Linked DNA regions of Homo sapiens: region 1 is linked to region 2. Evidence: fine-mapped expression QTL. A gene starts in region 2. The other region holds a variant in brackets. All regions are shown on one strand. Distances are from middle to middle.

Region 1 (4,526 bases), 28 kb after region 2:
CCTGTAATCCCAGCTACTCGGGAGGCTGAGGCAGGAGAATTGGGTGAACCCGGGAGGCGGAGGTTGGAGTGAACCAAGATAGTGCCACTGCACTCCAGCCTGGGCAACAAGAGTGACACTCCAGCTCAAAAAATAAATAAAATAATGATTCTGCATTTCAACAGATACATTTGCTGCAATTCCATGGAACCAAATACGCGGCCATTGACCCATCAATGGTCAGTGCCGAGGAGCTTGAGGTGCAGAAAGGCAGCCTTGGCATCAGCCAGGAGGAGCAGTAGTGTGTCTCTCGCTGTCAATGATGAGTTGACCCGGTGTGTTCTTGTATAGTCAGTGGCATCAGCACCCGTCAGCCAGCCTTTTCCTTCAGGTTCGTCAGGCTCACCGGTTCTCACTGTGTCTGGGAAGTAGGACTGATGGTCATCTTCATGACAGGCGGCATCTCCACTAAGCCTGTGTAACTGTTCCCTCTTTGGTTTTCTTAGCTTTTGAATTTGAAGAAGTACTTTTGAAGACTCCCATTTTAAGAACCGTGCAAATTTTGCTACCAAAAGTCTTCACCACTGTGTTCTTAAGTGAATGTTAATTTCTGAGGTTTGGGACTTTGTGGTGGTTTTTTTCTTCTTTTCTTTTCCATTCTTCTTTCTTTCTTTTTATGTTGTTTGCTGTAAATGCTGCACATCCAGATTGCATATCAGGACATTGGTTATTTTATGCTTTCTTGGATATAACCATGATCAGAGTGCCATGGCCACTACCCCACTGTTTGCTCTCCTGCAAATCAACTGCTTTTAATTTACACTTAAACAAATTGTTTTGAGTGTTAGCTACTGCCTTTCTAGATATTAGTCATTTGGAATAAAAATTCAATTTAACTGAGTCGCTTTTGTGATTATTGTTGCTGCCCAACTGGGCTACACAGGCCTAGGACTTTCTGAGAAGTAGGTCATGGTTGCCAATTCTGTGTGACTTTGGGTAAGTTACTTAATCTCCCTGAAGTACAGTTTGCACATCATAAAATAACCCTAAGCTATCATTTATTGATCTGCTACTGTGTGCCAGGTACTTTTCTCGTCTTCTTTCCCCTGAGTGAAAATGCTTAAACCCACATGAAGTAGAGAAAATGGCATAATGAATGATGTTCCCATCATCCAGCTTCAAAAATTATCAACTCTCAGACAGTCTTGTTCATCTTTTCTTTTTTTTTTTTTTGAGACAGAGTTTCGCTCTTGTTGCCCAGGCTGGAGTGCAATGACGTGATCTCGGCTCACCGCAACCTCCGCCTCCCGGGTTCAAGCAATTCTTCTGCCTCAGCCTCCCAAGTAGCTGAGATTACAGGTATGCACCACCACGCCCGGCTAATTTTGTATTTTTAGTAGAGATGGGGTTTCTCCATGTTGGTCAGGCTAGTCTCGAGCTCCTGACCTCAGGTGATCTGCCCACATCAGCCTCCCAAAGTGCTGGGATTACAGGCATGAGCCACCATGCCCGGACTTGTTCATCTTTTAACCTACCCACGTTTCTTCCACACATGCTCCTATCACTAAATTATTTTAAAGCCATTTCTGGTGCTGTGTCATTTCATCTGTAAATATTTCTATGTGTACCTTTAAGATACAGCCTTAATACCATTATCACACTTAAAAATTTACCAATAATTCCTTCAATTATTTACCAATAATTCCTTCACTGGATTGTCTAATAATCCAGTGAATGTTGTCACTCACAATTATTCCATAAATTTTTTTTTATAGGTGACTTGTTCTAATCATATAAAGCCCACACTTTGTCTCTTAGATCTCTTTTGAACTGGAAGCTCCTCCTCCCTCTATTTTTTCTTGCCATATATTCAGTGAAGAAACAGGTTCATTTGCCCTGTAGTTGCCCCACAGTCCAGATTTGGCTGACTGTGGCCTCATGGTGTCCTTCCACTTGTTTCTCTGTCCCTGGTATTTCCTGTAAACTGGTAGTTACATCAAGAGGCTTGATCAGGTCAAGCTCGATCTTTTTGGCAGGAACACTGCATAGATGGGGCTGTGTGTTTCTCTCGCGTCATCTCAGGAGGCATCTGTCTGGTTGTGTCTAAGTTATTATGATTGCTGGGTGTGTTCAGGCATCACCAGCCTGATCCAGTCCTGAGAAAGTCCCCTGCTGGCTTAGCTGCCACTGCTGACCATTGCACAGGTGCATCATTCCATGAGGGGTTGCAGGTCAGTGATAATATTAATTTTTATCATTCCTTCTGCATTTATTAACTGGAAATTACCGATTTAAAAAAACAAAAACTTGCCCTCATCGACTGCTTGGTTTCGCTGAGATACAATTTAGACAGAAAAATAAGCATCAGTGCTTCTTTCCCTTTATGTGCCAGGTTTCAGAATATTGGGTTGGCCATACCTTCTTAGACTTCATCCCCAATACAGCCCTGATTATCCTGACTTTACAGGTGAGGACCTGGAGACTGGGTCAGGCAGTAAGGGGTGGAGCTGGGATGCCACCTTGAATCTGACCATCCCTAAAGCCAGTGATCTTTCCACAAAGGGGCCACATTGTCTTCTCTATCTGTGGCTTGACAACAGTCATGAGTTATGGAAACACTTGGTAAACCATAAGGGCGAAGCTTGACATTTTAACTAGTAGCGTCTGAGGCTACTAGAGCCGTC[T/C]AACAACTTTAACTACTCCCCAGCTCTGCCCCCTGATGACTGCAAGTTGTCATTGCCAGCCCTGATCAATTTTGAGTACTGGCCTTGAATGCGTACTCAGGCCTATTAGGCCAGCCTTCAACAGGCATCTCAGCCTTCGACAGGCAACCAGTCAAAAGCTATGCCCATGGCCCCACTGCCCAAACCTGCCCTTCCTCTTCTAGCCCCATTTTCTTAGGTCCTGGCATCACTATTTCTTGGAATCCCCAGTTAGAAACTCAGCCATCTTGGACCCTCCACCCCCACTCACTCCTCCACCCCCATGTCTCAGGCTGAAGCGGATGCAGAGATGAAAATTTGGGTGCAAGATGTTTATTAAGGATCAACATCTGTGGCCTGGTGTGGTGGCTCACACCTGTAATCCCAGTACTTTGGGAGGCCAAGGGGAGTGGATCACCTGAGGTCAGGAGTTCAAGACCAGCCAGGCCAACATGGAGAAACCCAGTCTCTACTAAAAATACAAAAAAATTAGCCAGACCTGGCGGCACGTGCCTGTAATCCCAGCTACTCAGGAGGCTGAAGCAGGACAATCACTTGAACCAGAGTGGCAGAGGTTACGGTGAGCTGAGATGGTGTCACTGCACTCCAGCCTGAGCAACAGAGTGAGACTCAATCTCCAAAACAAAACAAAAAAACAACATCTGTGAAGGGAAGATGGATTGGGCAGAGAGCGAAATTGAACTGTGATGCAGGCCCGATCAAGTACCCACCAACTCAGTAGGGCACGCAGGAGCTTGAAGCACCCACTGGAATATTTTCATGGAGGACTAAAATGGCTGGGTCTCTATGCTCCCGCGTAGCTCAGTTCCCAGAGGCAGCTGCCCTGGGGAGGGCAGGGTGTTGGGTGGGGCAACTCTCTGCAGCTGAGGCAGACCCTGAAGGGCTGACAGCTGGAGGCCATCTGCCCAGCTCACTCCTGCAGCTGGATGGAAAGGCCTTCCTGGAAGAAGGGGGTCCGGGCAATGCATTTCCACATCTACTACACCTATATCCCCTGACTCTCAGAGATCTAGCAACTTGCCTGCAAACTTGAGCCTTCCTCACTACAAGTTAGGCCTTGGCATCTTTTGCCCAGACTACTACAGTCCTCACTGGCTCCACCAGCCATCTCCTCCCACCCCCACCCATCCTCTGTGTGGTCCACACACAGGTCTGATCTTGTCACTTGCCAGTGCATGAACACTAAGGGACCTCTGTTGTGGAAATCAGACTAGTTTCAGAAACTCTGAAGTGGGGCTGTAACCATTTAGTGAAGCTCTGCACACAGGAAGAGATGCGGGGAGCAACCTCCACTAAGAGCCAGGGACTCCTTCACCTCAGTTCTTAACCTGGGAGTTTTATGGGTTCATTTTGATACATGATGTGATCCAGGGCCTGTACCCGCTTCTAGAAGTTATCTTGGGATCCACAGGAGAAAGACTTCGCACTTTTTAAGTATATAAACCTGCAGACTATATGTGAATAGTTTTAAGTACAGTATATATCTTAAAAAGGGGCCAGGCACAGTGGCTCACGCCTGCAATCCCAGCACTTTGGAAGGCCAACCCAGGCAGATCACGAGGTCAGGAGATCAAGACCATCCTGGCCAACATGTTGAAACCCCATCGCTACTAAAAATACAAAAAAAAATTAGCTGGGCGTGGTGGCATGTGCCTGTAATTCCATCTACTTGGGAGGCTGAAGAGGAGAATCGCTTGAACCAGGGAGTCGGAGGCTGCAGTAAGCCGAGATCGCACCACTGCACGCCAGCCTGGCAACAGAGGAAGACTCCGTCTCAAAGAAAAGGGAGGGAGTAACTGTAAGTAAATATCCATTGGAAAAGTG
Region 2 (4,000 bases):
ATATTATCCTGTGAAAAGATAAATTAAGAGGGACAGAGCCCGGGTTTGGGTAATTCTGAGAGCCAGCTGGCCATCTGTTTACTTTGCTTGGTGTTCACAGCATATTTTGTGAACATTCCAGTTTTTCTGTGAGATTCTCACAGATGAATTGGTGCTGTGGGAACCATCTGGCAGACCCCAGCCACAACAGCTGCAAATCCTTACAGCCATGTCTACCAGGTCAGCCTGCACTGGGACCTGCCTGAATCAAAAGTTTGCTGCCTGAATTTGTGCATTACAATTCAGCTGGAATTCACAGATATTAAATGTTCTTTGTTGGGATTAGGAAAGGGACAATGTGCTTGCCATGTGTTATGGAACAACTGAGGACACAAACATGACCATGGTTTCCCTTCCTGAAAGAAGTAAAACATTTATTATTTTTGGATTGGTCTACATTGTAATAAAAGTTGATATGTAACAAAACATATCTACATAGTGATTTTTTTTTATTGTCAATTGTCAAAGTTTACTACCACACTAACAGAACAATGACTTTTAACATACGGGTATATCCATAGATTAGGTCTCATTAAAGCTGTTACTAAATGGGGTCTAGGGATGGGGTCTAAGGAATACAGCTTTAGGAACAAATGTGGAAATGGGGATAGATTTATTTATTCCACTCATTAATTCATTCAATATAGTTTTTTGTTGGGAGCAGACAAGGTCTCTCGCTTTGTCACCTAGGATGTGGTGCAGTGGATTCGACATCTGGGCTTAACAGATTCTCCCATCTCAGCCTCCTGAGTAGCGGGGATTACAGGCATGCGCCACCACGCCCGGCTAATTTTTGTATTTTTTTGTACAGACAGGGTCTCCCAGGTTGCCCAGGCTAGTCTCGAACTCCTGGGCTCAATCAAGCGATCCGTCCACCTTGGCCTCCCAAAGTGCTGGGATTACAATCAATATACATTTAGTACCTATTATTTATGGGCTAATCATGTGCTAATGGACTGGTGGAATCACTCTATTCCCTTTGCTCTAGATTGAAGCTTCGAGACCACCTGGGAAAATAGACAACTAATGTAATGAATATCCATAACCAGTTTCAGAGACAACCAGTAGTTTGCAAGTTATTCCACCCATTAAACGATTCCAAATGTTGGAGAAAAGGCCCCCAACTTAAAATACTCCACGGAAACGTGCTCTATACATCTATGTGGTGCTTACAATAAAAGATGAATTCCTGCGACTGAGTTGCAACCCCGAAAGAAATGATTTAGAGAAAAAAAGAAAGAAAGAAAAAGGTAAGTATGTCACCGTGCTTTTGGAAAATGCTTTTGGGATTTGTCCAAGTTCTAGAGTGGAACCCAAGGCTCCTGGGCCAGGGGACAGAAGTGATAACTAAGTAGGATGCAATTTAGTTGGAATCTTCCCTGACCTTAATCCCATAAACAGTTGCCTAGGTAAAGGCAAAGTCTACAGGCCCTAAAACAGGGTACAAGCTTTCCCTAAAACATATTAGAGAGAGGCACTTTCAACAGGACCTTGTTGCAGGATCCCTAAAAAAAAAATTCAAAACAAGGAGATTTACATGTTATTCACCTTATCATAATTTCAGAAATATTTTACTAATAAAAAAGGAGTCGTGAAGTCTGGAACACCTTAAGACGTGACGTCTGCAACACCTTAAGAACAATGATTACAAATGTATTAATATTCTCTCTGATTTTAAGGGAAAAGTGATGAAGGAACAGGAAGATGGGTGGGCGTATGTTCCCAGAAATCCCCAGAACGTCAAAAAGGAAGCGGAGGCTTTGAGTGGAGGACTACGGAGAGCGTCTACGGTTGTGCCAAAGGAAAAAAAATGTTCCTAAGAAAAGAGTATACAAAGTTGTGTTCATCAAAGTCTGGAACCCAAAGGTGTCCCTCCAAAGCTGTACACGACAGAGAAAACGCGAACTGAAAGAAGAAGCAGGTCCCAAGGGGCCAGGCGCCTCCTCCACCTCCTCCTCCTCCTAGGTACGTAGGGCAGAACTAAGGCTGACCCAGACGTAACTCAGCCCTCTCCTCACGCCAGCCGCAGCCAAGCATCCCACGGAGCCTCCCCCCGCGCCCGTCGCCGTGGCGACCGCCGGGGCCACGCAGCACCGCCCCTTCCTCGCGACGTGGCCCCGCCCTCTGAGAACCCGGAAGCGGGAGTCTCGCGCCAGCTGAGCGGCGGTCGGGCGGGGGGAGCGCGGCGGCCCAAGCTCGCTCGGCCACGCGCCCCGCCCCCTCAGAGGCCGGCCTCCCGCACGCACCGCGCAGCCTGCTGTGCCCGTGGGTCCCGAGTGCTCCGCCGCCCGCCCCGACCCGGGCCCAGCCGCCTCCACGGCCCGCGCTCGTACTGGAGCGAAGAGCGGCCTCCTGAAGGAGGGGAAGGGACGTGGGGGCGGCCACGGCAGGTGAGGGTGGGCGAAGCCCTGGGAAGCGGCTGGGTGTGCGGTATGCGGGGTTGTAGGTGTGTGTGTGTGGCGCGTGGCTGCCTTGGTTGGTGTGACTTTGTGAGTGTGTTCTGAGTGGGCCGGTCCATGTGACCACGCACGTGATCACGTGCCCTTGTGAGTGTGTGTCTGGGGCCGAATCTGGGCTGTGGGGTGGTCGGTGTGCTTGTGACCCTGCCTTTGTGTGGCTGTCACCGGTGGGACTGGCGGGGAGCTGTGTGTGAGTCTCCAGCGGGAGGTGGGGGCGGCACAGGGCTTAACCGGGGCATCCTCCTGTAAACCCATCCTGGGGCTACACGACTGCAGCCCAGGAACATTTCTTTCTTTCTTTCTTTCTTTTTTTTTTTCTCAGCAAACTTTTAAGAACTGTGAGCAGAGGCCAGTAATTTTGGAGACAGGACCTCGGCCTGAAAGTGATAGATGTCTTTGTTGTTACTGAGTGTGGGCCAGGTGTAAGGTTTGTAAACGGGGGATGAGGAACAGAGCGGGACCGGAGTGTCTCATTTTTCCTCTTCTCGTTTTCCTGGGGAGTTATAAGTTAGACATTTATGCTGCTTCCTTTGTCTCCACCTACACTGGTTCAGCTCCTTTTGGCACAAAGATTCAACAAATTAAGGAGTAACTTTTTTTTTTTTTTTTTTTTTGAGACGGAGTCTCGCTCCGTCGCCCAGGCTGGAGTGCAGTGGCGCCATCCCAGCTCACTGCAAGCTCTGTCTGCTGGGTTTACGCCATTCTCCTGCCTCAGCCTCCCGAGTAGCTGGCACTACAGGCTCCCGCCACCACGCCCGGCTAATTTTTTGTATTTTTAGTAGAGACGGGGTTTCACCGTGTTAGCCAGGATGGCCTCGATCTCCTGACCTCGTGATCCGCCCGCCTCGGCCTCCCAAAGGGCTGAGATTACAGGCGTGAGCCATCGCGGCTGGCCACTGAGGAGTAACTTAATAGCTGTGTCCAAATTCCAAAAGCTTTTTTCCCAAGAGCATGAGAAGAGATGTCACAGATGTCAGGTAGGCACCTTTTCCTCCTGTAAGGTTTAGAGATAATGCAATGAAGAAAAGAGGGATAGATCTCCCCTGAAGAGATCTAAGAAAAGGATAGCTGTGTACTTCTGTGGTGAGGGATGGAGACGTGCATTAAAAAGCCAGTTGCATCTCCCAGAGACTCTCAGCTTCTAATATTTTGTTATGGCTAGTATTTATAAGCACAGATTTTCCACAATGCACATCAACTATAGATTGAAATAAAGTAGCAGAAACCTCTGACTAATTATGCTGGTTATGTGACTTAAACATTGATAAAGGTGATTTTGTTGACTTTAAAGTGGCAGGTTCTGTTGAAGCCATGAGGGATAGGGGCATAGTCACAACTGGCAGGTTTTTTTGTTTGTTTGTTTGTTTGTTTTTTGAGACAGAGTCTCACTCTGTCGCCCAGGCTGGAGTGCAGTGGTGTGATCTCAGCTCACTGCAACCTCCGCCACCCAGGTTCAAGCAATTCTCCTGCCTCAGCCTCCTAAGTAGCTGGGATTACAGGAG

Alleles and levels. Alleles are on the strand shown, and positions count from the first base shown. SD is a standard deviation of normalised expression in the study named.
With allele C in place of T in region 1, the expression in thyroid of the gene that starts at base 2,180 in region 2 is lower (moderate effect, 0.62 SD a copy in GTEx).

What was found. PIP is the estimated chance that this variant, and not a neighbour inherited with it, causes the effect.
Region 1: its variant is fine-mapped to the expression of SPG21 in thyroid (GTEx, PIP above 0.99).

The regions. Positions count from the first base shown.
Region 1 is chr15:64,959,375-64,963,900 of GRCh38, reverse strand. It overlaps SPG21 (SPG21 abhydrolase domain containing, maspardin), which reads left to right. Exons shown (of 9, transcript NM_016630.7): 9 at 165-879. The coding sequence ends at 281. Among named protein-coding and RNA genes, the nearest start is that of SPG21, 28 kb to the left of the region's middle. The variant T/C (reference allele first, on the strand shown) is at 2,664.
Region 2 is chr15:64,988,094-64,992,093 of GRCh38, reverse strand. SPG21 (SPG21 abhydrolase domain containing, maspardin) reads left to right here and starts at 2,180. Exons shown (of 9, transcript NM_016630.7): 1 at 2,180-2,429. RefSeq lists enhancers at 1,747-1,806, 1,847-1,916, 1,972-2,471, 2,472-2,973 and silencers at 1,987-2,476, 2,597-2,646, 2,449-2,743.